3 separate regions of the Homo sapiens genome follow, and all the other regions are reported to be linked to region 1. The links are microRNA targets in miRTarBase. Many come from high-throughput screens and were not tested one by one. Region 1 holds a microRNA gene; each other region holds the end of a gene's coding sequence.
The links. The annotated mature microRNA hsa-miR-130b-3p reads CAGUGCAAUGAUGAAAGGGCAU and lies in region 1 at 2,265-2,286, opposite strand. An mRNA with a match to its seed (bases 2 to 7 or 8) in the 3' UTR can be bound and repressed. Matches are read on the target gene's strand: a 7mer-m8 pairs with bases 2 to 8, a 7mer-A1 pairs with bases 2 to 7 and ends in A, and an 8mer does both.

Region 2: miRTarBase lists ABCD2 as a target of hsa-miR-130b-3p. The part of its 3' UTR that is shown has no 7-base or 8-base seed match.
Region 3: the mRNA of ATP6V0D1 is a reported target of hsa-miR-130b-3p. Seed matches in the 3' UTR shown: 7mer-m8 at 517-523.

What each region holds. Positions count from the first base shown.
Region 1 is chr22:21,651,493-21,655,639 of GRCh38, reverse strand. MIR130B (microRNA 130b) reads right to left here and starts at 2,336; the gene lies at 2,255-2,336. MIR301B (microRNA 301b) reads right to left here and starts at 2,659; the gene lies at 2,582-2,659. It also overlaps the pseudogene LOC107985532. RefSeq lists enhancers at 2,946-2,995, 2,532-3,203, 3,204-3,874.
Region 2 is chr12:39,550,499-39,554,498 of GRCh38, reverse strand. ABCD2 (ATP binding cassette subfamily D member 2) reads left to right here. Exons shown (of 10, transcript NM_005164.4): 10 at 368-4,000. The coding sequence ends at 587. Among named protein-coding and RNA genes, the nearest start is that of ABCD2, 67 kb to the left of the region's middle.
Region 3 is chr16:67,435,022-67,439,021 of GRCh38, reverse strand. ATP6V0D1 (ATPase H+ transporting V0 subunit d1) reads left to right here. Exons shown (of 8, transcript NM_004691.5): 6 at 1-51; 7 at 152-229; 8 at 333-1,003. The coding sequence ends at 494. HSD11B2 (hydroxysteroid 11-beta dehydrogenase 2) reads right to left here. Exons shown (of 5, transcript NM_000196.4): 2 at 3,182-3,394; 3 at 2,880-3,065; 4 at 2,636-2,773; 5 at 1,469-2,434. The coding sequence ends at 2,019. Among named protein-coding and RNA genes, the nearest start is that of HSD11B2, 5.9 kb to the right of the region's middle. RefSeq lists an enhancer at 3,035-3,536.

The sequences.
Region 1 (4,147 bases):
ACACTGCCAAGAGATTTTTTTTTTTTTTTTTGAGACGGAGTTTCCCTCTTGTTGCCTAGGCTGGAGTGCAATGGCGCAATCTCAGCTCACCGCAACCTCTCCCTCCTGGATTCAAGTGATTCTCCTGCCTCAGCCTCCTGAGTAGCTGGGATTACAGGCATGCGCCACCATACCTGGCTAATTTTGTATATTTATTTTTTATATTTTCAAGAGGGAGTCTTGCCCTGTTGTCCAGGTTGGAGTGCAGTGGCGCGATCTTGGCTCACTGCAACCTCTGCCTTCCGGGTTCAAGCAGTTCTCTGCCTCAGCCTCCCTAGTAGCTGGGATTACAGGTGCCCACCACCACACCCGGCTAATTTTTGTGTGTGTGTGTGTGTGTTTTTAGTAGAGATGGGGTTTCACCATCTTGGCCAGGCTGGTCTTGAACTCCTGACCTTGGACCCACCTGTCTCAGCCTCCCAAAGTGATGGGATTACAGGCGTGAGCCACTGCGCCCAGCCTAATTTTGTATATTTAGTAGAGATGGGGTTTCTCCATGTTGGTCAGGCTGGTCTCAAACTCCCGAACTTAGGTGATCCACCTGCCTCGGCCTCCCAAAGTGCTGGGATTACAGGCATGAGCCACTGCGCCTGGCCAGAGATTTTTTAAATGACAGTTGTCTCTGCCTCAGGGGCTCCCAGTCTAATGGACACTTCTGCCACAGGGAGAACATTTTGATTTAGGCCGGGTGCGGTGGCTCATGCCTGTAATCCCAGCACTTTGGGAGGCCCAGAAGGGCAGATCATGAGGTCAGGAGTTCGAGACTAGCCTGGCCAACATAGTGAATCCCCGTTTCTACTAAAAATACAAAAATTACTGGGTGTGGTAGCACCTGTAGTCCCAGCTATTCGGGAGGCCGAGGCAGGAGAATCGCTTAAACCCGGGAGGCGGAGTTTGCAGTGAGCCAAGATCGTGCCACTGCACTCCAGCCTGGGCGACAGAGCAAGACTCCATCTAAAAAAAAAAAAATTTGATTTAACAAGCTGTTCTGGAGGAATATTCAATGCTGTGAAGCCCAGAGAAGGCTTCCATTGGGAGGGAGCCAGTGAGCAGAGCCCTGAGTTCAGTCTCCCCGCAGCAAGAGCAGGAGACAGCTGCATGGGGGTCTCCAGCCAGTGGGTACAGAATCTGTACAGGACTGAGGGGTGGCCACCTCCAGCCATGGCCCCTGGTGCCTAGAGGAAGGGAGGATGGATCTAAGTCAGATGACCCTAGGATCAAGGAACCCCAAGGGATCAGGACTAGGAAGCCAAGGAGCATGTGTCATTGCCCCTGTTCCTCCCACGGGTGCCAGGGCTTCTCTCCCCAGGGTAGGGGTAAAGCAGTTTCCCAATGCGCCCAGCTAGGGATGAGGGGAACTCCCAAAAGCCCATCTGGAAACCTAGTCCTCCTCTAAAGAAGATTTGAATGACTGTGACTGGGCACGTAGAAACCTTTTGCACCGTGTCAGGTCTTGATGGTAGAGGTGGTCATCCAAGCATGCCTGGGGTCAGGCTCCTTGGAAGTTCAGCTCCAACCCTGTATTCCAGCTGGGACGGTTGGAATGTTAGACACCTCAGTCCCTCCTGCAGGTTCAGGGCACACCTCTCTGTAAGAGAACAAACTGGCATGGTTGGTAGACATCATTTGCAGGCTTTGTATCCCAAGTCCACCCATCCATCTCACATAGTACCACTCCAGCTGAGTCCACTCAACTGATCAGTCAACTGGTCAGTCCATAGTACCACTCCAGCTGACGTCCTGGGGTGAAGGCTGCCTCCTGAAAGGCCTGCCTTACCCCCTTACCCAACTGCCACCCAGAAGAACATTCTCTCCAGAGCCTGGCCCTGTTCAAGCTTCCAGCAAGGACTGGGCCCAAGCCAGGCCTAGAATGATCTTCCATGCAAAAGACTGGGCGTGTATTTCCCCTAAGACCCTGACCAGGCCTGGAGTTCCAGTCTTACCCCAGGGACCCAATGTGGAAAGACCTTCAAACAAGAGCTTTTCAGAAGCTGGGGAGGTCTGCTCCTGCACCTGTCCAGCCATGACAGGATGGAGAGTTTAGGGATGATTCTCCAGCTCTGCACCCACCTGATCCTCTGATGGAGGGTCCAGTCCAGCTTCACATCTGTGCCTAATCAGTGGAAACACTTACCCTCTGGGCACCTCAACCTTCTCAACTGGAAAGTGGAGTGAGGCAGCAAGCTCCCTTTCCCCCTCCCAGGGTAGCAGGCTGGACCTGACCGATGCCCTTTCATCATTGCACTGCTTCCCAGCGGCCTATAGTAGTGCAACAGGGAAAGAGTGTCGGGCAGGCCTGCCAGTGCCTCCCCCAGGGTGGTCTGCAGGGATCTGAGACCTGGAATGCAGGCTGGCTGGGGCGGGGCCTCTGCCCGGGGGGAAAGGGTGCCCTCTGACCCCAGAGGCCCAGGCCTGTCTAGAATCTCAAGTTTCCATGGAGAAGGGAGCGAATTGGGTAGGGGGGAGGGGAGGGCCTGCAAGCCCAAGGGGCCCTGCCTGGGGAGTGGGAGGTGAGGGTTATAGGGAGGGAGATCCCCAAGGCTGGTCCCAGATGCTTTGACAATATCATTGCACTGCTTCTCAGAGCACAGTAGTGCAACCTCGTCAGAGCACCTGCGGCCAGCAGGGGGGACCCCACCACCCCCAATACACGCAGGGCGGGAAGCTCAACCATGGATGGGTGGGTGGGGCAGAGCCCCCGTCCAGTCCATCCGGGCAGGGAAGGAGACCGCAGCGGGGTGCGTCCCTGGGGTCTTCAGAACCCAGGACACCCAGGCCTTTCCCAGAACGCTCCGGATTGAGGTGGAGGAGAAACCCCAGACTAGGGGGTTGTTCCAATCCCGGAGCAGGAGCTGACGGGCCACGCAGGGGAGGGGGCGCACACACAAAGACGAACCCGCACTCAGCCGCAGTCCAAAGCCGGCTAGCGCCCGGAGCGGGGTGGGTACAGCCCGACGACCCTGCGCCCTGACTCGGCCCGCGGCTCCAGGAGAAAAAGGGCGGCCCCACCCCGGGACGACGCGCCCCTTCTAGCTGACGACTCCATCCCTGGCCCCTTGCCCTGCACTAGATACACTCTGGATTCTTTTCTAACATATTCTTCTGCCTGGAGGCCCAGAGTGGAGCAGAGGATGGGGGCTCCCCGCCCTTCTAGAGTTCCCTGCTCCAAAGAGGGCCCCCGGGATCCCGGCCGCGCCCCTCCGCCTGACCCGCCGAGTAGGGCCGCCCAGCCCAGCCCAGGATCCCCTCCTCAGACACAGCTGACTCACGCAGACATCCCTTCCGCCCAGGGCCCGGTCAGGACGCGGAGGGTTAGACGGAAGAGGATCCCGGCCATCGTCTGCCCCCGGGTCCCCGTCCAGACGACCCTGCACCTCGTGGCGGCCCCTCGCCTGCCGGCTCCATCTTTAACCCGCTGACAGTCGGAGGGGCCGGGCCCCCGACTCCTTAGCATAGCGCTGCGCTCATTGGCCGGCGCTGGCGCGGGGATTCGCCTCCTGCATGCCTGTTGGCTGAGACGGGAGAGATTTCAAAATAGCCTCCGGGTTCCGATTGGCCCGGCGCCGGCCGAGTCTCGGGCTCCGTGGTTTTAACAATGAGTTCTACAAACACTTTTTCCCCATTCATAACTTATCAAAAGGAACTTTGCCCGCCTTTTCTCAGCTCCAATCTCTGCGAGTTTTCTAGCGACACCGACAAGAGCGCTTGGAAGCCCGGTGAGGGGCGCCAGGCGCGAGCCCACAGTGGGGGAGGCCGAGACCCTGTGGAAATTCCCGAACCCCCGCCAAGCCTGCTGTGAACGCGGCCGCGGGCTGCTTTGTTATGCATGCTGAGGTTGCTCTCTGCGCCTCCTGGATGGGATATTTGGACGTGGTGGGCTTACAAACTGGGGTAGCCCCCCTCCCAACTCAACCACCCCGGATCGCCCGGCAGGACGCGAGTGAGGCTTTCCTGAAAACCCCCGGGTATGGCTGGGCTATGGAGACCGGGTCCTGGGCCCCGTGGTCTTTTGGATCTGTGGGAGATATGGGGAACGGAAGTGTAAGCTTTGGTTTCTTCGTGATTGTGATCCACTTTGCGGAGAAGCATTCATTAAGCGCCTACCCTT
Region 2 (4,000 bases), not on the chromosome of region 1:
TTTTAATGTTGATTTTCTTTCCTCAGCTTCCTTTCCTTACTCCCATCCTAAGAATGCCTTACTATTTATTCAGGAGCCAAATTGAGTTATGAAGAAATTAAATACATGCAACAGCATGTCTTCCTTTACAGTTAATATACATCCAGAATATGAAAAAAATAATAATATTTTCCTAAAGATCAGATTAATGACTTTTGGGTTTTAAAAAAATCACAGTATTTAACTTTTTGATATGTCCTTAAAACTCAAATGTAAAATAGCACCTACTTAAAATTTGCCTTTGGGTATCAATTTGAATGATAAACCTACAACTAAAATGATTTTTCAACATTATGGCTAATAATATTATTTCATTTTAATTATGCAGGAAATACCACACACATTTATTACAGTTTGATGGTGAAGGAGGTTGGCGCTTTGAACAATTGGATACTGCTATCCGTTTGACATTGAGTGAAGAAAAACAAAAGCTAGAATCTCAGCTAGCTGGAATTCCCAAAATGCAGCAGAGACTCAATGAACTATGTAAAATTTTGGGAGAAGACTCAGTGCTGAAAACAATTAAAAATGAAGATGAGACATCTTAATTTGTTTTGACATATTTTAAAAGTTAATTATTAGATAAAGGCTCAAAGACATTCTGTTATACTGCATGAAGTATGTTAAGCTAAGCACAGAGAAAAAAAGGCAGCAAGACATGTTTTATAAGATTTTAGCATTAAGGAAGTATATGATCTGACTTTTCAGAAGAAAATAAACAAATGCATTATGTAAGGTCAGTCATTATGACTTATACTAATTCCTAGTGAAGGCCTAATGCACTTGTAAAACAGGATTTTCTAGGTGAATTCATGATGAATACCAGATTTACTATGTATATGTGGTGTGTCTGAAGTTCTTAACAAACATGGGCAATATTCTGGAAATGAAACAAGTTAAACTGAGCAGCATTTGGGTTGATACCAAGTGCATAAGATTCAAACTTTGAGTGACATTTAGTCCATTTATGGTTGATATTAGGTTTAATAGCTAGAATTCAAATTGATTATTGCTAGTGGCCAACTAAACCTGTACAAAATAGCTGACAGTTTTATAAATAATTTCAATATAAAAATTGTTTTAATGGCATTTGTTGAAAGAAAAAAGCATGGCTAAAATGTATAAAATGCCATATTTTTAAATTTTGGACTTTAAGCATCTTAATGAGGGCATATAACAAATTAATTTTAGTACAAATCTTAAATATTTTTAATAAATCCTTTCATTTTAAAAAGAGAATTGCCAATACAGAAAAGGAGTATCCAAACAATGTCTCAACCTGATAATTTCCTTAGCAGAATTACCTATTGCAACTTCTGTTCAGAAATACACAGCTTGTTTTTTTGCCCAAGGATGAGTCTACATTTTAAGAACTGCAATGGTATAAAGGAACTTAAGGATTCTGAGAATCATAGTAATAACATACATTGGAATAGTACTTTATAATTTACAATCCCCATTTACATCATTTCACCTTAATGTTGATGACAATGTTTTGAAACAAATACTATTTTTCCTACTTTGCTTTTGAGAAAATTGACACTCAGACTTGCCCTAATCATGCACTTTACTTAAGGAAAGATCGAGAAATCAAATGAAGTTCTCCTGACTCTCTGGTTTAGTGCTCTTTTGTTATTATCCTTTAAATCAAACTGGGCTATAATAGCAATAAAAGTTAGACGAAGTGTAGAAAATAAAATAAATTTCATAATGTTAGTCTTATTGTTATTTGGTTATTGTTTACAAGAAATGAAAATTAAGTACAAAGTGCAAAGATCATTGTTCTGCGGCTTAAAATGAAATGAGAAAGTTAGTAAATCATTCAGCAACTATGCAGTCTTACTCAATATTAATGTACCTCTAAGGCATTAGCAATGAGAAGGGCAAATAATTATGGTTTTGGTAAAGTTAATATTTATTGAACATAATGAGAAATAATCTATATGGACTAGTCATATGAAATAGATTTTATTCTATTTGTGTGCACTGGAGCTGGAAAGCCAAGACTGAAACTTTATCTCTTGCTGCCTGTGATACCACATTGACATACCAGAAGAATATTGGAATGATCAGTTGTTAGTGGCCTAGGATTTTATTTGCCTGTTGAGACACAGCCATAATAGATGTTAAGTCTGTGATTCTTAGACTTTTCAGGTGATAGAGTACCTGGAAGTCATTCATAATGATCGTTATAGAACATCATAACATTTCTACATTTTCAATTCTGCCATGATAGCTAGTGTATTTTTAATTTTCAATAAATGTAACCAACTTACATGAAGGAATGCAATATAAAATTATAATCAGTACATTTGTCCAACGTTTTCATTAGTATTATCACCTACTTATTCATCAGTTACTAATATTTCCTGTTAGAAAAGTGAGGCAGGAATTAAAGATTTTTTTTTAAGAAGCATGGAACCAAAACTTAAACTTGCTAAAAATTATTCATTAATCTTTTCTACATAAGTGATTATCCAGTTTATACTGCTACAAGGGCAAAAGTCTGAGGCAAGTGTTTTAAGTTAACTTTTAAAGGTACAAGAAGAAAATGAAAAATCCTCATGTGAAAGATGTGTATAATTTTCATGCCTTAATTTTCATAATATAAAAATAAAACATAATTTTAAAACAACCTGATAATTTTGTTTTGAAACATTGAAAAGAATGCCAAAACAAATATTAGATTTGTAATTAGTCAGTATTTAATATATTTTACCCATGAGCTAAAGCAAAAAAGACTCATTATTTATGATGCACAGGATTCAAAGATGCCTAAAATTCTGTATTAAAAACTATGTACACTGTAATTTAAATGTTAAAGTTCTAATATGCACATGTTTTCCATGAGCTTTTTGTGCCTATTTGTTTTCTGAATTTATTTTTCAGGACCAACATCCTTAACTTGGAAGGGAAAACATCTCTGATTTGAACTTGTATTTATGTACCATTCAATTGTTTCCAAATGGTCCAATGGGTATACCATATTTTACTACTCTTATATTTTACGGAAAACATGAAAAAGACTGAGAAACTAGCCATTTTTGAATACAGCAAGGGATAGATGAGGAAAGGAAAAAAGAAAGAATATTTCAAGTTTCAAACTACTTTTACCATGTTATATCTATTTGCCCAAACGTTTGACATATTTTTGGTCAAACAAAAAGCTATAAGTTTATGGAGCTTGAGTTTAAAATGTGCATTCTTTAGGTTAACTCTTAAACTTGAAAAATAAGTTGGATTCTATGAAAACGTTGCATTATATTTCTACAGCATGTAATGTTATGCCAAGCATGAGTCTAAAACAGTTTGTGTTCTTGTAAGCAGGATAATGTGTAATAATCCCTCTGAAATAATCTCAAGAAGAATGATATACCTTAAAACTCAACTCAAATTTACATTTGTTTACAGTGGGAATGGTTTTCTCTTGATAGAAATTTGGTTTTTGTCTCAAGTTTTGGTCTGTCAGTAAAGGCATAAATGAATATCCTAGTTTTTATTTGAAACATTGGTTCCAAGTATAGTTTCATATTTGGCAATAGATTCATCTTATTCTAATATGTTTGGAATAGCTTTTTGATTCAATGAGTCTAGGAAAATCTGTTACACATTGAAACCCAAGTCCAGAGAATGTTACACACTTCTAATATATGCATAAAATGATGGTAAAGGTTATTAAATCATTGATTTAAAAAGATGACTTTGATATAATTACTTTATGGGCAAAATTGTCCTCATTTAGAAGTGAAAAGTACTTTCACATAGCCTAGGCTATTTACAGTTCTGATTATATACATTTAGATATGTTGAATATGTTTTGGGGTTGAATATGTTTTGCCACATGAGCGCCTTCAGGTGGATGTATAAAATATTTTTTTAAAAACCAATTTCTTCTTCATTGTTGATGCTTTTCCTGACTACCAAGTTCAGGGCTGGTTTACATTTCATATTGTGAAATTTT
Region 3 (4,000 bases), not on the chromosome of region 1:
GCTCGGGCTGACGACTATGAACAGGTCAAGAACGTGGCCGATTACTACCCGGTGAGTGCCCCGGCTGGCAGGACAGCGGTTGGATGTGTTGTCACCAAGCACCCCCACCCAGAACCCTCATGCTTGTGCTTCCCCCCACCCCCCTGGCCAGGAGTACAAGCTGCTCTTCGAGGGTGCAGGTAGCAACCCTGGAGACAAGACGCTGGAGGACCGATTCTTTGAGCACGAGGTGAGTCTGCAGGGTCTGCTTGTCAGAGGGAGGCCAACCTGGTGGTTTAGACCTGACTCTGTGGCCATGGCCACCTGGACACCACATCTGCCCGTGTCCACAGGTAAAGCTGAACAAGTTGGCCTTCCTGAACCAGTTCCACTTTGGTGTCTTCTATGCCTTCGTGAAGCTCAAGGAGCAGGAGTGTCGCAACATCGTGTGGATCGCTGAATGTATCGCCCAGCGCCACCGCGCCAAAATCGACAACTACATCCCTATCTTCTAGCGTCCTGGCCCAAGGCTCTCAATTGCACTCTTTGTGTGTGTGTGTGTGTGTGTGCGCGTGTGTGTGCGTGTGTGTGTATGTGGTCTGTGACAAGCCTGTGGCTCACCTGCCTGTCCGGGGTGTAGTACGCTGTCCTAGCGGCTGCCCAGTTCTCCTGACCCTCTTAGAGACTGTTCTTAGGCCTGAAAAGGGGCTGGGCACCCCCCCCCACCAAGGATGGACGAAGACCCCCTCCAGAGCAAGGAGGCCCCCTCAGCCCTGTGGTTACAGCCGCTGATGTATCTAAGAAGCATGTCACTTTCATGTTCCTCCCTAACTCCCTGACCTGAGAACCCTGGGGCCTGGGGGCAGTTTGAGCCTCCTCTCCCTTCTGTGGGTCGCTCCCAGAGCCATGGCCCATGGGAAGGACAGAGTGTGTGTGTCCTTGGGGCCTGGGGGGATGTTGCTCCTCAGCTCCCTCCCTCAGCCCTGCCCCTCTGAGACAATAAAACTGCCCTCTCTAAGGCCAACTGTCTGCTGTCTCGTTTAGGCCCTGGTACCTCTCCATGACCCCTAACTTCCCTCGTGACCCCACCTTGCTAAGCAACCCTGCCTAAGCCTCCACCTCCCTCCCTCAGTCAGCAGCCGAGATTCTTCAGGGTTGGGGAGTCCCAGGGAGATAGCCCCTTCTTCTGCTGGAGGCTCAGATGCATACAGGCCTGGGGAGCTAGATGTTGGCCCTGGAGGCCCCCCTGGCCTCCCCAGTTGCTTCAAGCAATTGGGATCAGTGTCATTACCCCCATTTCACTATGAGGAAACCCATGGTCTGAAATGATTTGCCCCAGGTCAGTGGAGGAGGGGGAGGTGTGAACCAGAGTCTACCAGGGGAATCCCAGCCTCCACGCTGAGCCCCAGGAGTTGCCACCCTGTCACACGGCCACACTGTGTCACTCAGCCAGCCAGTCAGTGACCCCCTCCAAACAGCACCTGCCGCATTTTAGAAGAAATAAAAATTTGTCTTTATTTAAAATGTGGCAATTGGGAAGTACAGTACATGCTTCCCTGTGGCTTGGGGGTGTGTAGTTGGGGCCCTAATTCTTGAGCCAGTCAAGAGACACTTGGGATTTAGCCCTCAATTGCAGCACTGAGGCACTGGTGCCGAGAAACAATCCTGAGGGGGTCCCCAACCCACCTAGTCACTCCTTAGTTTGCAGAGGCACTATCTGCAGAGTCCTGTGAAAGGCTGCAGTGAAGTCTTGCATGAGACTCCCCATCCAGCGGAGTTCTCCAAGCTGCAGGGTAGAGCGTTGTGCCAGGAGGGTGTTTGGGCTCATGAAACAGTGGAGAGGCGCAGAGGCTCACTGGGAAACCTTGGCCTCACCGGGCCTGGATTGGGCATCGGCAGTGGGCATGAAGTGGGGGTGGGATTCTTTAGGCCAGGGTCCAGGACACTTGGGGGATCGTAATGCTGGGGGTTTTCGGGGAGGAACCAAGGGCTCACGGAGCCTCCTGTGCTGCAGTGGCTGGGCCATAGGTGCACATGGCTCACCGAGCCACTGCTGGGGAAGGGCCGGGGCTCAGGTTTGGGTCCTGGGCTGCGTCCTGTGGTGGGGTAGTGCCAGGCTGGCCAGGCTGCAGTGCTCGAGGCAGACAGTGACTGATGAAGAAGGCCTGCAGGAAGCGGCGCCGCAGGCCTTCAGGCAGGTAGTAGTGGATGAAGTACATGAGCCCCAGGCCCTGGCCGGGGTAATAGCGGCGGCGGGGCCGAGCTGCCAGCAGCGCATCTGTGATGGCATCTACAACTGGGGTGAGGTCGGACATGGCCAGGCGTAGCGAGTGCAGGAACTGCCCATGCAAGTGCTCGATGTAGTCCTTGCCGTAGGCCTGCAGCAGCTCTTGAGGCAGGTTGGCCAGCAGCAATTGCTTGCGCTTTTCCCACTGACCCACGTTTCTCACTGACTCTGGGGAAGGAGTGGCAAGGTCAGAGTGGGATCAGCTAGGGGAGCCAAAGCCAATTAGGACTGTTTAACCCGCGCCAGGTCTGCAGCCAAAACTACACCCCCAACCAAAACCATGACCATTCATCAAACCTGACCTGCCCCCATAAGACCATTCCCAGCCCCATTCCCCACCCCCACCCCACCCCCAGCCCTGATTCCCACCTGTCTTGAAGCAGCCAGGCTGGATGATGCTGACCTTGACCCCCCAGGGAAGGAGTTCACAGCTGAATGTGTCCATGAGTAGCGCCACGGCCGCTTTGGAGGTTCCATAGGCCCCCAAGCACGGATATGGCATGTCCCCTGCGGATGGATTGGGAGTGGGGCAGCTCAGCTTTGGCAAGGGGCTCCCTAAGCCCTCCCCCACCCCAGGGGGCTCCTTTTTGCTCCAGTGGGGGGGGGCACTCACCCGCTGGGCTCCCCACAGTCACGATGCGGCCCCTTGAGCTGCGCAGCAGGGGCAGGAGGCCCTTGGTCAGCTCGAGCGCGCCAAAGAAATTCACCTCCATGCAGCTACGGAAAGTGGCCACTGGAGACAGCTCCGCATCAGCAACTACTTCATTGTGGCCTGCGTTGTTGACGAGGCCCCACAGGCCTGGGGTCACAGAGCAGAGGAGGGAAGCCTTAGGTCAGCCCAGCAGCAAACTTCCAGTCCCCGTGTCCTTCCCACTCCCCTGCCACGCCCTTGCCTGGTGGACACTTGCCACTGACCGGTGCTGGTGGTGTGGGCCTTGGTGAACTCTAGCACGCGGCTAATGTCTCCTGGTTTGGTCAGGTCCATCTGCAGCAGCCTTAGGCGAGGGGAGCAGCAGGTACGCAGCTCGATGGCACCGGGGCTGTTCAACTCCAATACGGTGGCCAGCACCGTGAAGCCCATGGAGTCCAGTTTCTTGGCCGTCTCCTTGCCAAAACCAGAGTCACAGCCTGGCCAGGCCAGGGCAGTCAGTGAACTTCCACTGTGGCCCAGCCTAGCCTGAGACAACCCCAGAATCACCAGGGTCTGGATGGGATCCAGGCCCCTGCAAACCAAGCCACCAGCAGTCAACAACCCTAACTCCTTCCCTAGGCCCATCCCTGGCAGGCTGTGTCCCTCTAGCTGAGCCCTGGGCAGTAACTCTGTGACAGCTGTCATCTGCCTGACTCCCCGTGGCTACCCCACTAATGTGGCTTACAGAAGAGGAAACTAAGGCCTAGTAATGCTAAGTTGCTTCCCAAATTCACACAGGTCAGGTCTGGGACAGTCCCAGGCCCCAGTGTGGTTCTGCTTTCTTGATTTCAGGCCACAGCTCACAGGCACAGGCACAGTATTAGTAGGAGCCTCCCTTTCTCTTTTTTTTTTTTTTTTTTTTGAGACAGGGTCTCGCTCTGTTGCCCAGGCTGGAGTGCAGTGGCATGATCTTGGCTCACTGCAACCTCCCCTCCTGGGCCCAAGCATTCCTTCCTCCTCGGTCTCCTGAGTAGCTGGGACTACAGGCCTGTGTCACCACGCCTGGCTGGTTTTTTCTTTTTTTTTTTTTTTGTTTGAGACGG